Linked DNA regions of Homo sapiens. The protein of the gene in region 1 interacts with the protein of each later gene in a biochemical or structural test. Each region holds a gene or a part of one and is shown in the gene's direction. Other genes may lie near its edges.

What was found.
Region 2: the proteins of RPA2 (region 1) and PHF11 form a complex in vitro, tested with the Homo sapiens proteins (one study listed by BioGRID).
Region 3: the proteins of RPA2 (region 1) and CDC5L form a complex in vitro, tested with the Homo sapiens proteins (one study listed by BioGRID).
Region 4: the proteins of RPA2 (region 1) and TIPIN interact in a biophysical measurement, tested with the Homo sapiens proteins (one study listed by IntAct).

What each region holds. Positions count from the first base shown.
Region 1 is NC_000001.11:27,900,204-27,905,307, reverse strand, and holds part of RPA2 (replication protein A 32 kDa subunit), read left to right. Parts: intron 1-5,104. UniProt on the Homo sapiens protein: As part of the heterotrimeric replication protein A complex (RPA/RP-A), binds and stabilizes single-stranded DNA intermediates that form during DNA replication or upon DNA stress.
Region 2 is NC_000013.11:49,512,953-49,516,452, forward strand, and holds part of PHF11 (PHD finger protein 11), read left to right. Parts: intron 1-106; coding exon 107-214; intron 215-3,500. Other genes in the region: SETDB2-PHF11 protein, read left to right, coding at 107-214. UniProt on the Homo sapiens protein: Positive regulator of Th1-type cytokine gene expression.
Region 3 is NC_000006.12:44,425,706-44,429,205, forward strand, and holds part of CDC5L (cell division cycle 5-like protein), read left to right. Parts: intron 1-397; coding exon 398-478; intron 479-776; coding exon 777-1,019; intron 1,020-3,500.
Region 4 is NC_000015.10:66,353,886-66,358,031, reverse strand, and holds the start of TIPIN (TIMELESS-interacting protein), read left to right. Parts: upstream 1-1,346; 5' UTR 1,347-1,393; exon of another isoform or gene 1,394-1,889; intron 1,890-3,910; exon of another isoform or gene 3,911-4,034; intron 4,035-4,146.

The sequences.
Region 1 (5,104 bases):
TGAATAAATAAAAATAAAGCAATCTCAAAATACTAGCAATAAAGGATTATTAAGTAAACCATGACACATTTATAACATACTACAAATGATACAGAAAAGCGTGTATTGCCACAAAGAAGTGTTTGCCATAAATTGTTGAGAAAAGCATATTACAATGTGGTATGCAGGATTTGACCCAATTTTTACAAAGCAGCATATATATAAGTGTCTTTATAAACATGGATAAAATAGACTGAAATACAGTATATACTTTTTATCCTTTTATTTTTCAATTGTGCAGAAGGCCTCTTGGTGTTTTGTATTTTGTTTTTGAAATACATTCATTACAGAAAATTTGGATAATAAAGACTGTTTTAGGCTGGGCATGGTGACTCACGCCCGTAATCCCAGCACTTTGGGAGGCCAATGCTGGCGGGTCACCTGAAGTCAGAAGTTTGAAACCAGCCTGGCCAACGTGATGAAACTCCATCTCTACTAATGATACAAAAATGAGCTGGGTGCCTGTAATCCCAGCTACCCAGAAGCTGAGACAGAAAAATTGATTGAACCTAGGAGACAGAGGTTGCAGTGAGCCAAGATTGCGCCACTGCACTCCAGCAGATTGCGCACTGCTCTGTTGCTCTGGGCAACAGAGCAAGACTGACTCAAAAAAAAAAATGCGGTTCTCCTTCAAAAACCACAAGTTATCTATAGAGAAATAACTTGGTAGTTATGTAATTTTTAAATTTTTTCCTTCTCAGAAAAATAAAGGATAATTCATTCAGCAGTTATTGTTGGAGTACCAATTCTGAACTAGACTGTGCTTGGTTCCAGGTATAAAAAGAATGAGGTAGACACAGTCCCTGCCATCAAGCAGGGAGGTAGATACTATGGATACCTAATACTACTTGTTCATATAAAATGCACTATGCTTGCTTATAAACCATTTAAAAAATCACCTGACATCTCATGTCTCTTAAAGAACTACTATTACGACACATTTTGGAAAATACCCTTTCAGACATCTGTCTCTGCATATATGTACATACAGGTGTCCACATACCTCTTTTACTGTAGAAGGGATAATATGCTATGCAACTGCTAAGTAATTTGCTCTTTTCACTCAAAATTATGTTGTGGAACTGATTTTTTTTTTTTTTTTTGAGATGGAGCTGTGCTCTTGTTGCCCAGGCTGGAGTGCAATGGCGCGATCTCCAGCTCACCACAACCTCCGCCTCCCAGGTTCAAGCAATTCTCCTGCCTCAGCCTCCAGAGTAGCTGGGATTACAGGCATGTGCCACCACACCTGGTTAATTTTGTATTTTTATTAGAGACAGGGTTTCTCTGTATTGGTCAGGGTGGTCTCGAACTCCCAACCTCAGGTGATCCACCTGCCTTGGCCTCCCAAAGTGCTGGGATTATAGGCATGAGCCATTGGCCTTTTTTTTTTTTTTTTTTTTTTTTAAATAGAGACAGGGTCTTGGCTTGCTGCCTAGGCTGGCCTCAAACCTGGGCTCAAGTGATCCTTTGGCCTTAACCTCCCAAGTAGCTGGAACTATAGGCTGATGCCACCGTGCCTGGTGAGGAGCTGATTTTTTTTTTTTTTTTTGAGACTGAGCTTCACTCGTGTTATCCGGGCTGGAGTGCATTGGTGCAATCTTGGCTCGCTGCAACCTCTGCTTCTCGGGTTCAAGCGATTCTCCTGCCTCAGCCTCTCGAGTAGTTGGGACTATAGGCGTGCACCACCACACCCAACTGATTTTTGTATTTTTAGTAGAGACGGGGTTTCAACATGTTGGCCAGGCTGGTCTCGAACTTTTGACCTCAGGTGATCCTGCCTCAGCCTCCCAAAGTGCTGGGATTACAGGCTTGAGCCACCATGGCCCAGCCAAGAACTGATTTTTTAATGTTATCTGTAAAGATTTACATCTATCATTTTAAATGACCACCGATTCCATTATAAGAATACATCATCCCTTACTTAACAGTGGACCCAGTCAGGGAACAACATTTAACTTCTTTTCAGTCGTTTGCTATTATATACAATGCTCCAGTGAGTATCTTTGCATACATTTCTTCATGATTATAAAATAATCGTAAGGCCAGGCGTCGTGGCTCACGCCTGTAATTCCAGCACTTTGGGAGGCCAAGGCAGGTGGATCACCTGATGTCAGGAGTTCAAGACCGGCACCGCCAACATGGTGAAACCCCATCTCTACTAAAAATACAAAATTAGCTGGGCGTGGTGGCACACACCTATAATACCAGCTACTCGGGAGGCTGAGTCAGGAGAATCAGTTGAAGCTGGGAGGCAGAGACTGCAGTGAGCCAAGATCGTGCCATTGCATTCAGCCTGGGCAACAAGAGCAAAACTCCATCTCAAAAAAATAAAATAATCATAAGATGTATTCCTAAAAGTAGGTTTTCTGGGGGGAAATACACATTTGACATTTTTTTAACATCTTAGTTTTTGCATTTTTGTACTGTCTTCTCTAAAGGTACCAGTTTACGCTTCAGTCATGCATGAGAGTGCCCAGTTAGTTTCCATACCCTTAACATTTTTTTTTTTAAGAAATAGGCTGGTCTCAAACTCCTGGGTTTAAGCAATCCTCCCACCTCAGCCTCCCAAAGTGCTGGGATTACAGGTGTGAGCCTCTGTGCCTATCCTCCATACCCTTTATAACAATGGGTTTTTGTCTTAAATTTTTGCCAGTGTGATAGTTGTTTTAAAAAATAGTCTTTTTGACTAGGTGCGGTGGCTCATGCCTGTAATCCCAGGACTTTGGGGAGGCCAAGATGAGTGGATCACCTGAGGTCAGGAGTTTGAGACCAGCCTGGCCAACATGGTATAACCCAGTCTCTACTAAAAATAAAAAAATTAGTCTGGCATGGTGGTGCACGCCTGTAGTCCCAGCTACTCGGGAGGCTGAGGCACAAGACTCGCTTGAACCCAGGAGGCAGAGGTTACAGTAAGCGGAGATCTTCACACCAGTGCACTCCAGCCTGGGCAACAGAGCAAGACTGTCTCAAAAAAAAAAAAAAGTATACGTAAAAATAATAAAAAAAATTAAAAAATTAGCAGGGCATGGTAGCACGTGCCTGTAGTCCCAGCTATTCGGGAGGCTGAGGCAGGAGAATTGCTTGAGCCTGGGAGATGGAGGTTGCAGTGAGTCAAGATTGCGTCACTGCCCTCTAGCCTGGGCATCAGAGCAATATTCCATCTCAGAAAAAAATAGTCTTTTCAGTGAAAATTTTGTCATTTTTTTATGTGTATTTCTTTGGTTTTAGCCATATATATGTATTTTTTTTTTTACTATGTTTAATGTCAATTTGTGGGGTTTTTGTAAATTTTCTCTTTGATTCCCCTTCCCCTAACAGTGTTTTTGTTTGCAAGAACTTGAAAATGATTATAGTGACCTCTTATAATGAGGCCAGGCACAGTGGCTCACACCTGTAACTTTAGCACTTCAGGAGACTTAGGCAGGAAGATCACTTGAGGCCAGAATTTCAAGACCAGCCTGGGCAGCATGGGAAGACCCTATCTCAAAAAGAAATAATTTTGAAAAATAAATTGTGCAGTTTTTTCTAGTTTACCTTTCGGAAGCTTCTACTAGTCCCAAAGTTTGTTTTTTTTGTTTGTTTGTTTTAGTTAAAAAATACTTTATGGTGGCTGGGCGCGGTGGCTCACGTCTATAATCCCAGCACTTTGGGAGGCCGAGGCGGGAGGGTCACCTGAGGTCAGGAGTTCAAGACCAGCCTGGCCAATGTGGTGAAGCCCTGTCTACTAAAAATACAAAAATTAGCCAGGTGTGGTTGTGGGCACCTGTAATGCCAGCTACTTGGGAGGCTGAGGCAGGAGAATCGCTTGAACCCAGGAGGTGGAGGTTGCAGTGAGCTGAGATCGCGCCATTGCACTCCAGCCTGGGCAACAGGAGCGAAACTGTCTCTCAAAAAAAGAAGAAAAAAAAAAACTTTATGGCTAACAAATTGTAATAATCAGTTATCCGAACCCTCAGCAATTCATAATGTTTTTGCTAGTGGACATTCTTGCCTCACTGTTGATGGCTGCTGACTGAGGAGGGTGGTAGTTGGCTGAAGGTTGAGCTGGCTGTGGCAATTTCTTGAAATAAGACAACAAAGTTTGCCTGAGTAACTGAGTCTCCTTTTCACATAAAATTTCTCGATATTATATCATGCTGTTTGATAGCATTTTACTTACAGTATAACTTCTTTCAAAATTGGATTCAATCTCAAACCCTGCTACTGCTTTCTCAACTAAACTTATGGAGTAGTCTAAATCCTTTATTGTCGTTTTAACAATGTTCACAGCATCTTCACTAGGAGGAGATTCCATCTCAAGAAACCAGTTTATTTGCTCATCCATGAGAAGCAACTCCTTTGAGAGGCCCAGGCGGCCAGATAGATCATTTGAGGTCAGGAGTTTGAGACCACCCTGGCCAGCATGGTGAAACCTCGTCTCTACTAAAAATAAAAAATTTAGCTGGGCATGGTGGTACATGCCTGTAATCCTGGCTACTCGGGAGGGTGAGGCAGGAGAATCACTTGAACCTGAGAGATGGAGGTTGCAGTGAGCCAAAATTGTGCCACTGCCCTCCAGCCTGGGTAACAGAGTGAGGCTCAGTCTCAAAAAAAAGGAAGCAACTCCTCATCCACTCAAGTTTTACCATAAAGTTACAGCAATTCAGTTATATCTTTAAGCTCCATTTCTAATTCCAGTTCTCCTGCTATTTCCACCACATCTGCTGTTACTTGCCCCACTGAAGGTGGAGGTAGCAGTGAGCCCAGATTGTGCCATTGCACTCCAGCCTGGGTGACAGAGCGAGACCTTATCTCAAAAAAAAAAAAAAAATCTTAAGCAGCCACCCAATATATACTTCAGATTAAAAAAGAGCTGTTGGCCAGGTGCGGTGGCTCATGCGTGTAATCTCAGCACTTTGGGAGACTGAGGCAGGTGGATCACTTGAGGCCAGGAGTTTGACACCAGCCTGGCCAATAAGGTAAAACCCCGTCTCTACTAAAAATGCAAAAACTAGCCGGGCACAGTGGTGCATGCCTGTAATCCCAGCTACTCAGGAGGCTGAGGCAGGAGAATCACTTGAACCCG
Region 2 (3,500 bases), on another chromosome or scaffold:
CCATTTCCCACTCCTGGTTTGATTTTCCACTTTTGGTATGATTTTCTGACATGTAGCTTTCAATATTACTTTGTGCATACTCTGGATTTTTTTTTCCAATCTGCAGCTGTATTCTTCAGGACTTGTGGAATGTGAGGATCAGGATCCACTTAATCCTGATAGAAGTTTTGATGTGGAATCAGTAAAGAAAGAAATCCAGAGAGGAAGGAAGTTGGTAAGTGTAAATGATGTTATTTCTTATACTGGATGAACAGACCCTCAAGGAATGCATTCCAAAGGAGTCTATTTGACTGATACACCAGGGATAGAGAAGCATCTTGGAGAGCTGGAAGAAGTAGGAACTGTATTGGAAACCTCAATTCAACTTAACATTTAATTTTTTTTTTTTTTTTTTTGAGACGGAGTTTTGCTCTTGTTGCCCAGGCTAGAGTGCAGTGACACGGTCTCAGCTCACTGCAACCTCCGCCTCCTGGGTTCAAGCGATTCTCCTGCCTCAGCCTCCCGAGTAGCTAGGATTACAGGCACGGGCCACCATGCTCGGCAAATTTTTGTATTTTTAGTAGAGACAGGGTTTCACCATGTTGGCCAGGCTGGTCGCGAACTCCTGACCTCAGGTGATCTGCCTGCCTTGGCTTCCCAAAGTGCTGGGATTACAGGTGTGAGCCACCACGCCCGGCCAACATTTAATATTTTAAAATAAACTACCATATACTTCACCAGTAAAGTGATCTGAGTTAGAATGCTTTTGCTGTAAGTAGAAGAAAGCTCAAGTCAAACAGACTTTTACAAAGAGGATACTTACTTTTTCACTTGATCAGAGAAAACACCTGCTTTCCAAGTTGGTTGATTGAGTGGCTTGATAATGTCATCAGGGGCCCAGGTTCTTCCTCTCTGGCCTCCTGTCCCCAACATCAGCTGGTCCCATTGTGGTCATAGGGTGGCCGCAGGCAGCAACTGAAGCATCAGGCTTTCTTGTTCATACCCAGTGAAAGACAAAGGTCATCCATACACATGGAATAAGCCCCCTTCTGAAAGTTTCATTAGGTTGCACCCCTCTTTCTGCACCAACTGCTGGGGGTGGCCATAACTAATCAGGGGTCAGCTCCTCATGGGTCATAAGGGGGCTATTCAAGGAGGAAGAAATGCTGAGAAGTCATTCCACTGGGCTTATTGCAGCGACATCCTCTCAAGGACCCTTCACATCTTAGCAAGCAGGACAGCAAGTGTGAGCACCTCACATTCTGACTACAACCACAGGGTTAATAACCAGGGACAAATGTATAGTTAGTCTTTGCAAGGCATCAGCATCAGCAGCATCCTGTGGTAGGTGTGTTACATACATTGCTCTAGGTAAACTCCCAGCTATAGGTAAAATGATGCCCATTTTAATCGAAGAAATGGAAAGTGCAGGGTGAAAGGCAACAGTCCAGATGGAATTCTGCAAATTATGCTATCTTAGGCAGTGTACACAATACTGTAGTAGGTCCTGAAGCAAGCCATAAAAATGGACTGTGTGTGGCCCGGGCATGGTGCTGCATGCCTCTAATCCCAGCACTTTGGGAAGCCAAGGCAGTTGAGGACTGCTTGAGCCCAGGAATTTGAGACCAACCTGGGCAATATAGTGGGACCCTGTCTTTACCAAAAAAGAAAAAAAAATTAGCCCGACACAGTGGCATATACCTGTAGTCCCAGCTACTTGGGAGGCTGAGGTAGGAGGATTGGGTGAGCCTGGAAAGTCGAGGCTGCAGTGAGCTGTGATCACACCACTGTACTCCAGCCTGGGCAACAGAGTGAGACTCTGTCTCAAATTAAAAAAAAAAAAAAAGAGTGTGTGGATCCTGCTCTCAATGTCTATGCTATTACTAATTAATACTTGGCAAGACTGGCTGCTGACATCATTAGTGCTGACAATGCCACATCCCTAGGATTTTGGGTGTGATGAGATGGGTGAACTGATTAGAAAGTAGCAGACAGACCTCAACTGGAATATTTTTTTGCTCTTCACTAATTGGATTTGAGTGGGGAGACACAGAGTTAAAGAAATCTCTGTGAAATTCTAGTAGCCATCCAGTTATGAAGAGACCCAGGCTGAGAAATGAGGGCAGTTGATTGGAGGCATAATATTTGGGGGAAAGCAGGTACCTGAGGGTTTCTGCGGACCTTGGGATGCAGACTTCCCTACTGGGAAGGCTTTGGGATGGGTTGGAAGTGGAGGATAAAGGAGAGAAGAGAGGAAAGTCACCTGAGGTAATAGTTACCCTCTCACAGCATTTATGGAACTCTTGGACTATGTGGGCAGATACATGGCACACACCCAGGGTGGGGACAGGCCAGTGCTGTGGTATTTTCAGTAAGCTGGGCAAGTACCTTGAGGGTGAGCAGCAGGGGCCCTCAGCAAGCAGGCTCCTCCCTAGGATTCAGACTACCAATCTGACAGAGCCACATGGACATCCAATAGCATTTCAGAGTAAAGTGGCCAAAAAAGTACAGTTCCATCTCCTATACACACACACACACACACACACACACACACACACACACACACACACACATTCTCCATCTAAATCTGCTCATAAAAACAGCACTATCATTATCCATTTGCCCAAGCCAGAAGTCTAAGGACTCTCTTTTCCTCGTCAACCTCCCAGCCCAACACCAAGCCCATGGGCACGAACTCCTAGGTGCATCTTGCATTCATCCACCCACTTCTCTCAGCGTCAGTAATCCACCATAGCGGAGTCACCCATCTTGTTCTCTAAAGCGAGTACTGACACTCGCCCGACTGTCTCTCCTGCCATCCCTACCCCAGCCCGTAGTTCTCCACCCAGCAGCAGCCCAGCAGCCTGAGTGATCTTTCAATAATGTTAATCAGTTTATGTTCCCCGTGCAGAAAGATAAAACCCAACTCCTTACTCTGGCATGTAAGTCCTACGTGACCCAGCCCTTACTTACCCCTTTGATCATCCTGAGACTTCCCTGTGCCCACTTCGCTGCTCCAACAGCACTGGCCATCTGTCTTGTCCTCGCTGTAGCTTGCCAATGGGGAAGCTCATTCTTGCGGCCAAGACCCAAGGCCCTCTGCTTAGAATGTCTTTCCTCCTCCTTTTTGCATCTGGGAGCTCTTACTATTATTCAGATCTCAGCTTCCATATCACCTCCTTAGAGGTGACCCATTTTACTAACTGCCCAGTCTGAAGTAGGGACCCAGTGACACTGTCACTTCACCCTATTTTAATTCGATATAATGTGTATATAACTTTGTGAGACGTTTTAAACTTTGCTTTATTTGATCATTGTACCTTGTCTCCAATAGAATGTAAGCTTCACGTGGACAGGCATCTTTTCTGCTTTGTCCACTACTGTTTTCCCTTATCCTAAAACCATGCCTGCCACATCATAGCTACTGCATGCTAAATAAATACTATATACTCATGTATTTTTAAATGAATAAATGTTTATTAGCCATTTGTATTTTTTCTTCTGTAATTTGCCAGTTACCA
Region 3 (3,500 bases), on another chromosome or scaffold:
ATTCATAAGAATCAGGAAACAATACATTTTTTGGCTGGCTTTTTGAGTTAAAAGTCAGTAATTTTGGAGTGAAAGGGAAGAAAGAGTTTTGTCGTGGGAGTCTCTTTGGAGTTTAGGTTTTCCATTTAGATGAGAAAAGTTTGTTACGTGATATGGATCCATGCAAGTTTGGAGAATGCTCTAGTAGACATTGGAAGCTCTTAGTTTCTATTATAATGAGAGTGAATAGACTGATTCATTTCTGTTGCCTTAGCATTGCCTTTCTACAAACTTAAACCGATTTCTAAACTTTAGCTATTGAACACACATGATCTTACATACCAAAGTGTTTTTAGCTTTACTGAGAGATATCAAATACGCTATAGCTGCAATAAAGGATATAAAAATCATTTTTTAGGCCATACGAGATGCAGAGCGTGTAAAGGAAATGAAACGAATGCATAAAGCTGTCCAGAAAGATCTGCCAAGACCATCAGAAGTAAGTGTTAGAATTTCTGGTTTAGGAAGTTTTAAGTTTCTTTTTATATGATTGCTGCGTTTTACATCATTCATAAAGACTATAAAACAAAATTTCATCTACTTTCTGGAATATAGCAAAGTAGTTCTCAAATCCAATCTTTAAAATGTTTCAGTAGTACCAGAAAGAATTTAGAAGGAAAAAAATGGAAATTGCTTTTGAAAATGTAAAACCGCTGTTTAATTCATGCTGTAACAGGTAATAACATTAATATATTATAGTGATATGTTTGGTAATTGTATTTGTTTTAAAATTTTAGGTAAATGAAACTATTCTAAGACCCTTAAATGTAGAACCGCCTTTAACAGATTTACAGAAAAGTGAAGAACTAATCAAAAAAGAAATGATCACAATGCTTCATTATGACCTTCTACATCACCCTTATGAACCATCTGGAAATAAAAAAGGCAAAACTGTAGGGTTTGGTACCAATAATTCAGAGCACATTACCTATCTGGAACATAATCCTTATGAAAAGTTCTCCAAAGAAGAGCTGAAAAAGGTATGATTGAGCTGGAATATTTCTTCTTGAGATTTAGGTAGTTGTTAGGTGCTGTGTATCATGGACAAATAATGAACTTATTTTTCCCTGTTGGTATTCATAAACAACTGAAATGTATGATTAGGAGATGCATGTTTAGATTAAGTGTTATGAAAAGGACATGCTTTAAATACCTCCATCCCCCGTGTTCAGTGTGATAGACCTTTAGCAAATAAACACCGCCAGGGTGTTTTTGGTTCATGGGTATTAATGGCTTCGTTGACAGTTGTTACAGTTGCCGTTTTCTGTATTCAGCTCTGCTATCTCTGAATAAAAATTAGATGCCTTTAGTACTTAAACATCACTTATTTAGAATAATATGAAGAGGTGAGAGAGACTAATATAAAAATGTTTATAGATTAAACCTTTTAGCTATTGAAAGGAAGGAAGTATTTTTTTTACTGAATATATTCCCCTCACATGATTTCCCCCTACTCTTTTGGATAAGGACATGAAGAAATGATTTCTTATATGAAGTCTGTATCTGGTCTTTTCTTCTACATGCATTTTATTCCTTCTGTTTTGACAGAGCAAACAACTGTGATTGTAAATAGAAATCTCCATAATTGTATAAGAAGATACAGTGGGTCTCATCGTTGGAAGCAGAGTGGTCATTAGCTTAAAAGTCTTTTTTTCTTTAGCCTTCAGCCCTGAGGAGCAGTGATAGACCTATGGATTTGGAATGAGCTGCTGTATACTTAGGATAAAACAAACAAGATTCTTACAAACTCTCCTGTCTTCTCTCCTGCATTCTTCCTCTTTCTTCGCTTTTCACAATTTCTTACTTTGTGTTTTCTTTATTGCATAAGTAATACATTATTTATTATAGGATTTTTAGAAAATAGAGAAAGGAAGGAGGGTTTCGATTTATATTTCAATAACTTGTCCCTGATTTCAGAATAACTGAGTCACTCATTTTTTAGTAAGTGCAGTAGGGAAACTAACATCTGTTGAGTTGCCTACTCTGTCGAGCACATTTAATCATTGAACTGGGATTGAGAATCAGGCTACGAAATTGATACTTGCACAGTTTCCTCTTTTGAAAGTGAAAATATGAGGGGAAGAGGAATTTAGGAAATAAATTTTCCTAAATTGTATGTATGGAAACCTAAAACAAGGATCACATTGTTGCTTTTGGAGATTCTGTAGAGGGTAAACCCTAACACAATTTTTGAAAAATAATAATTCTAAGTATTGGTTTGTAATTGTTTGAAACAAAGTAGCTTAAATATTCTCTCATATTTTATCTGTGTATATCTCTCTTTGTTCCAAAAAGAATTTGAAGCAGCTATTTAGTTAGCAGATTATTTATGGATAGTTTAAAGATAACTTAGCCATATTCTCTCGTAATGATTATAAGATCTGAACTTGTAAATTTTTACTCTGTGCAGTTTCAGAGTGAAATAGCATTTCTCTTTTAATAAACTGTCAGATTTTCTTTTTCTTTAATATACTTTAAGATATGTTAACATTGATTTGTTTCCATTATTTCCCTTAAGGTATTAAGTGTCCATTTTTTCTTCTATAGAGATGATTTTCCGTTTCTTTTGTTAAAATTTTTTGTTTATCAATCATTTCTCTTGATTTTGTAGATTTTGATGTGTTTATTTTCATTATTACTGGAAAGATTGAAAGCCTTCTGTAAGGCACAGAAGGTGGTTCCCAGTTTTTCATAAGCCATGAAGCAAAGGGCTGGGAAAAAATTCATATGCTTATGGAATTCTGTGTGTCTGGCATTGGGCTAGGCTCTATAGTATATTGTTCACTTAATCCTAATAACAAACACATCTGATCTAAGGTCAGCATCATCATTGCTTGGAAAGCTGTTTTTCAGCTTTCCAGGCTGAAAAAGCCCTGAGAAATGGGCTCAGATAAATTAAGCAAGCTCAAAGAGCTGCTTCAATGGTAAAGCTGTGATCTGAACCCAGGCCTGTCCAGCTTTCCCTCTCATTCTGTCATTTTACACTATTTTCTTTAGTAGTGAACTAAACTGGTTTATGATCTATCATCTAATTCGTGCCCCAGTCTCATTATCTGGCAATGTCAGGGCATTCCTTCAGGATGAGAAAAATGCCATGTGACAAAAAGATGCCTAGCTCCCCTTTACCATCACGTGAGGTCCTGCACACATGGTGGAGTGGGAGAGTGGAAGGGGCACACCCAGTGGTGCCATTTGTATTCTGCCTCATCTGCCTACTAACGATGTGGTCTTAACAAGTGGTTGAATCTCTATGAGCCTTAGTTTCATTAGCTTTTTTTTTTTTTTTTTTTTTTTTGAGACTGAGTCTCACTCTGTTGCACAGGCTGGGGTGCAGTGGCACGATCCCAGCTCACTGCAGCCTCCACCTCCTGGGTTCAAGGGATTCTTGTGCCTCAGCCTCCTGAGTAGCTAGGATTACAGGCATGTGCCACTACGTCCTACTAATTTTTACATTTTTAGTA
Region 4 (4,146 bases), on another chromosome or scaffold:
CCTGCGTCAGCCTCTCAAAGTGCTAAGATTACAGGCATGAGCCACCAAGTCTGACCAAATAACTTTTTTTTTTTTTGAGACAGAGTCTTGCTCCGTCGCCCAGGCCGGAGTGCAATGGCATGATCTCAGCTCACTGCAACCTCTGCCTCCCAGGTTCAAGTGATACTCCTGCCTCAGCCTCCTAAGTAGCTGGAATTACAGGTGCGCGCCACCACGCCCGGCTAATTTTTGTATTTTTAGTAGAGATGGGGTTTCACCACGTTGGCTAGGCTGGTCTCGAATTCCTGACCTCGTGATCTGCCCGCCTCGGCCTCCCAAAGTGCTGGGATTACAGGCGTGAGCCACTGCACCCGGCCCCAAGTAACATATTTTTGACATTTTTTTTTGTTTACATTCACACTCTCTCGCTTTTTTTTTTTTTTTTTTTTTTTTTTTTGCGACAAGATCTCACTGTCACCCAGACTGGATCTCCAGCTGGATCGCCAGCAGTGCGATCCTAGTCACTGCCGCCTTCAACTTCTGGGCTCAAGCCATTCGCCTGCCTGGGCCTCCCAAAGTGCTGGGATTACAGGCGAGCCACACCGCACCTGGCCAGTGTCTATGTTCAGCCCTATTTTTCCTCTCTTTACCACCTCTTTTCTCAGCTTATTATTCAATAAACAATTCATAAAACTCTGAGTTCGAAGCATTCTGCTATGAACTCTGAAGAAGCGGTAATTTCTTATTCACTATTGCTTGCCTCTGTCCTTTTTCCTCCTCCCACAACTCAGTTTTCCAAAAACCGAGACCTATTTCCAAGGTTTAAAGTGCCGGGCACAGTGGCTCACGCCTGTAATCCCAGCACTTTGGGAAGCTGAGGTGGGAAGATCGCTTGAGCTAAGGAGTTCGACACCAGCCTGGGCAACTAATCCCCGTCTTTGCAAAACAAACAAACAAACAAACAAAAACCCATTAAAACAAAAATTCGGTGTGGTGGTGTTAGTCGGGGAAGGGAGGCTGAGGTGGGAGGATCGTTTCAGCCCGGGAGGTAGAGACTGTAGTCAGCCGAGATCGAATCACTGCTCTCCAGCCTGAGTGATAGAGCGAGACTTAGTCTCAAGAAAAAAAAAAAAGAAAAACCCCAGAATAACAAGTATTAACTTTATGCAAATAAGGAGGCTTAACTGAGTTCCTCTGAAGAATTCAGTAGGGCGGAAATTGTGGGACCGAAGGCGGGACCGGCGTGCTGGGCGGAACCTGAGAGGCGGGTTTTGCAGGCTCCGCCCAGCCCCCCGCACGGATTTGGCGCCAAACGCTGCGGGCCCTTCTCGCCCCAGGAGTTCCCGAGTATCGCGAGAAGCGCGCTTAGTCTGCACGCCGAGGTCCGCGCTGTGTCCCGTGTTTTCTGCGTGAGGTGAGAGCTGGCTGGCGGGCCAATGAAGTTCTTGCGGGGAGAGGGGAGTCGGACTAGCCAGGGAGCCAGATGGAAGAGCCAGGGAGCCAGACAGACTAGCGGGAAAGCCTAATTGTCGCAGGAAGGGGGTCAGGAGGTTGGGGGGTCGACCTGACCCGGCCTGGAGAGGCGGGGAGGTGGGCGCGTGTCCCGGTTGCTTAGGTTTTGGGATGCCTCTTACTCTGCCAAGCCGCTTAGCGGGAGGGAACGTGTTCCTGATCATCTTTACCCCAGGCTTCTGTCCGGGGCGTGTCAATGTAGAAATCCCCCAGCGAATGTTGGATGAATGAATGAAGTTGAAGAGAGGGTAGGCGGGGAACGAGGATGAGGGGGACGGCTGGAGAAGAGGTATGGGAGGTTCGATGTTTCAGGGATGGCACCCAAGGGGGACATCGAGGCAGCACGGTAGCACTTCCTTTGCGATGAGGGGCGTCTCTTTGGACTTCTTGGAAAAGAGGTGGGCATTGGAAACCAGGGTCTGGGAACAAACCGTGGTTTGGACATAACATTTGTTACCTTCACTCTTCTGGGAGTTGGAGAAGTAGAGGAGGAAGTTCAGACAATTTCATAAGTGTCTAAAAAGAGACAGTTATGCGACCATTGACGAGGAGTAAAAGTCGTCTATTGAGCATCTTATTCACTACAAATAGAAGAAAGAAATACCAGTTTCCTGACAAGCCCCACCCCATGCTTGGCCAGTTCCTGAGTACACTTAATATATTTTAGGTACTGTCATCAAACTCAAAGCTCGCTGTCAGCCTCAAAGGTCTGAACCCTAGTATAGATTCTTGTAGCTTGCTTGAAGTTACAGTGGGTCATGATCAGGAATTGATGCTTTGTTTTTGTTTTGAAACGGAGTCTCGCTCTTTCGCTCAGGCTGGAGTGCAGTGGCGCGGTCTCGGCTCACTGCAAGCTCCGCCTCCTGGGTTCAAATGATTCTCCTGCCTCAGCCTCCCGAGTAGCTGGGACTACAGGCGTGTGCCACCACGCCCCGCTAATTTTTTTTGTATTTTTAGTAGAGATGGGGTTTCACTGTGTTGGCCAGGCTGGTCTCGAACTCCTGACCTCATGATCCGTCCGCCTCTGCCTCCCATAGTGCTGGGATTACCGGCGTGAGCCACCGCGCCCAGCCGATGCTTTGCTTTTATATTTATGGTAACCGAAATTTAGAATTAGTGAGATTTTAAAGATCGTCTAACTCCAATTTGGGGAAACTGGAATTTTTTTTTGCATTCCATCATTCATCAAATATATATTGAGCACCTGGGGCCGGGCGCGATGGCTCACGCCTGTAATCCCAGCATTTTAGGAGGCCGAGGCGGGCGGATCACGAGGTCAGGAGATCGAGACCATCCTGGCTAACACGGTGAAACACCGTCTCTATGAAAAATACAAAAAATTAGCCGGGCGTGGTGGCAGGCGCCTGTAGTCCCAGCTATTCGGGAGGCTGAGGCAGGAGAATGGCGAGAACCCGGGAGGCGGAGCTTGCAGTGAGCAGAGATCGCGCCACTGCACTCCAGCCTGGGTGACAGAGCCCGAGACTCCTTCTCAAAAAAAAAAAAAAAAAAAAAAGATATATATTGAGCACTTGCTGTGTAACAGCATTGGGGTTCCAGCTGTGTAACACAGAGAGACTTAACCTCGTTGCCCTTTTTGAGCTACAGTCTAGTTTGGGAGACGAACAATAAATAACTGTATAAATAAAACCTGATATTGAAACTGGATAAGTGCCATGACACTTGTACTTGACACTATGAATGCTTACTAAAGAAGGATTTAGAGAAATTGAGGTAAACTTTTGAAAAGGTGATAGTTGAGATCTGGAAGATATTAGGAGTCAAGGAATAGCTTTTTCAAGACAGGAAATAGTATTTGTAAAGAGCCAGTGGCCTGAGGGATATAGCTCTTTCAAGGAAAGAAAAAGCATAGAGTAGTGTGAAGTGAGACTGGTGAGGTAGTAAGAGGCTGGATCACACAGGGCCTTGAAGTTTTGTCTTTATCTTAAGAGCAATCAGAAACCATTGAAATACTTAATCCAAGTGAGGTGATCAGCTTTATATTTTCAGATTCAGTCTAGATGTAATAGGGACAATTGAAGGAGACGAGTGGATGAGAGTAGTGGAGTAATGCAAGCAAGAAATGTTGGGAAGTGGTTATAGAGATAAGGAGAAATAGACAGATTCAAGGGATATTTAGGAAATAAGATGGGCAGGATCTGTGGGATAGGGGAAGGAATTGCTAAAGATGACTTGTAGGTTTCTGAATTGCATAGCTGGATAGATGTCATTTAATGAGTTAGGAAAATTTAGAAGTTTGGTTTTGTACCTGCTGAGTTACAGGTGCCTTTCAGGCGTTTAGGAAGTGTAAAATGGGAAGTAGTGATCTGGATCGCAGAGTCAAGGCCTAGGGTAGAGATAAAAATCAGGGAGTCATCTATAAATCAGTACTTATTAAAGCTCTGTGCATAAATGAATGAAGAAGCCCTAGGATGGAGTCTTGGATACTTAATGGCCGGGGTAGAAGATAAACCTGCAAAGAAAATCCAGGAGGAGTGCCCAGAAAGGGAGGAAAGCCTCAGCCTCCTGAGTAGCTGGGACTACAGGTGCGTGCCACAACACCTGGCTAAATTTTTTTTATATTTTTAGTAGAGACGGGGTTTCACTGTGTTGGCCAGGCTGGTCTCGAACTCCTGACCTCATGGTCCGTCTGCCTCT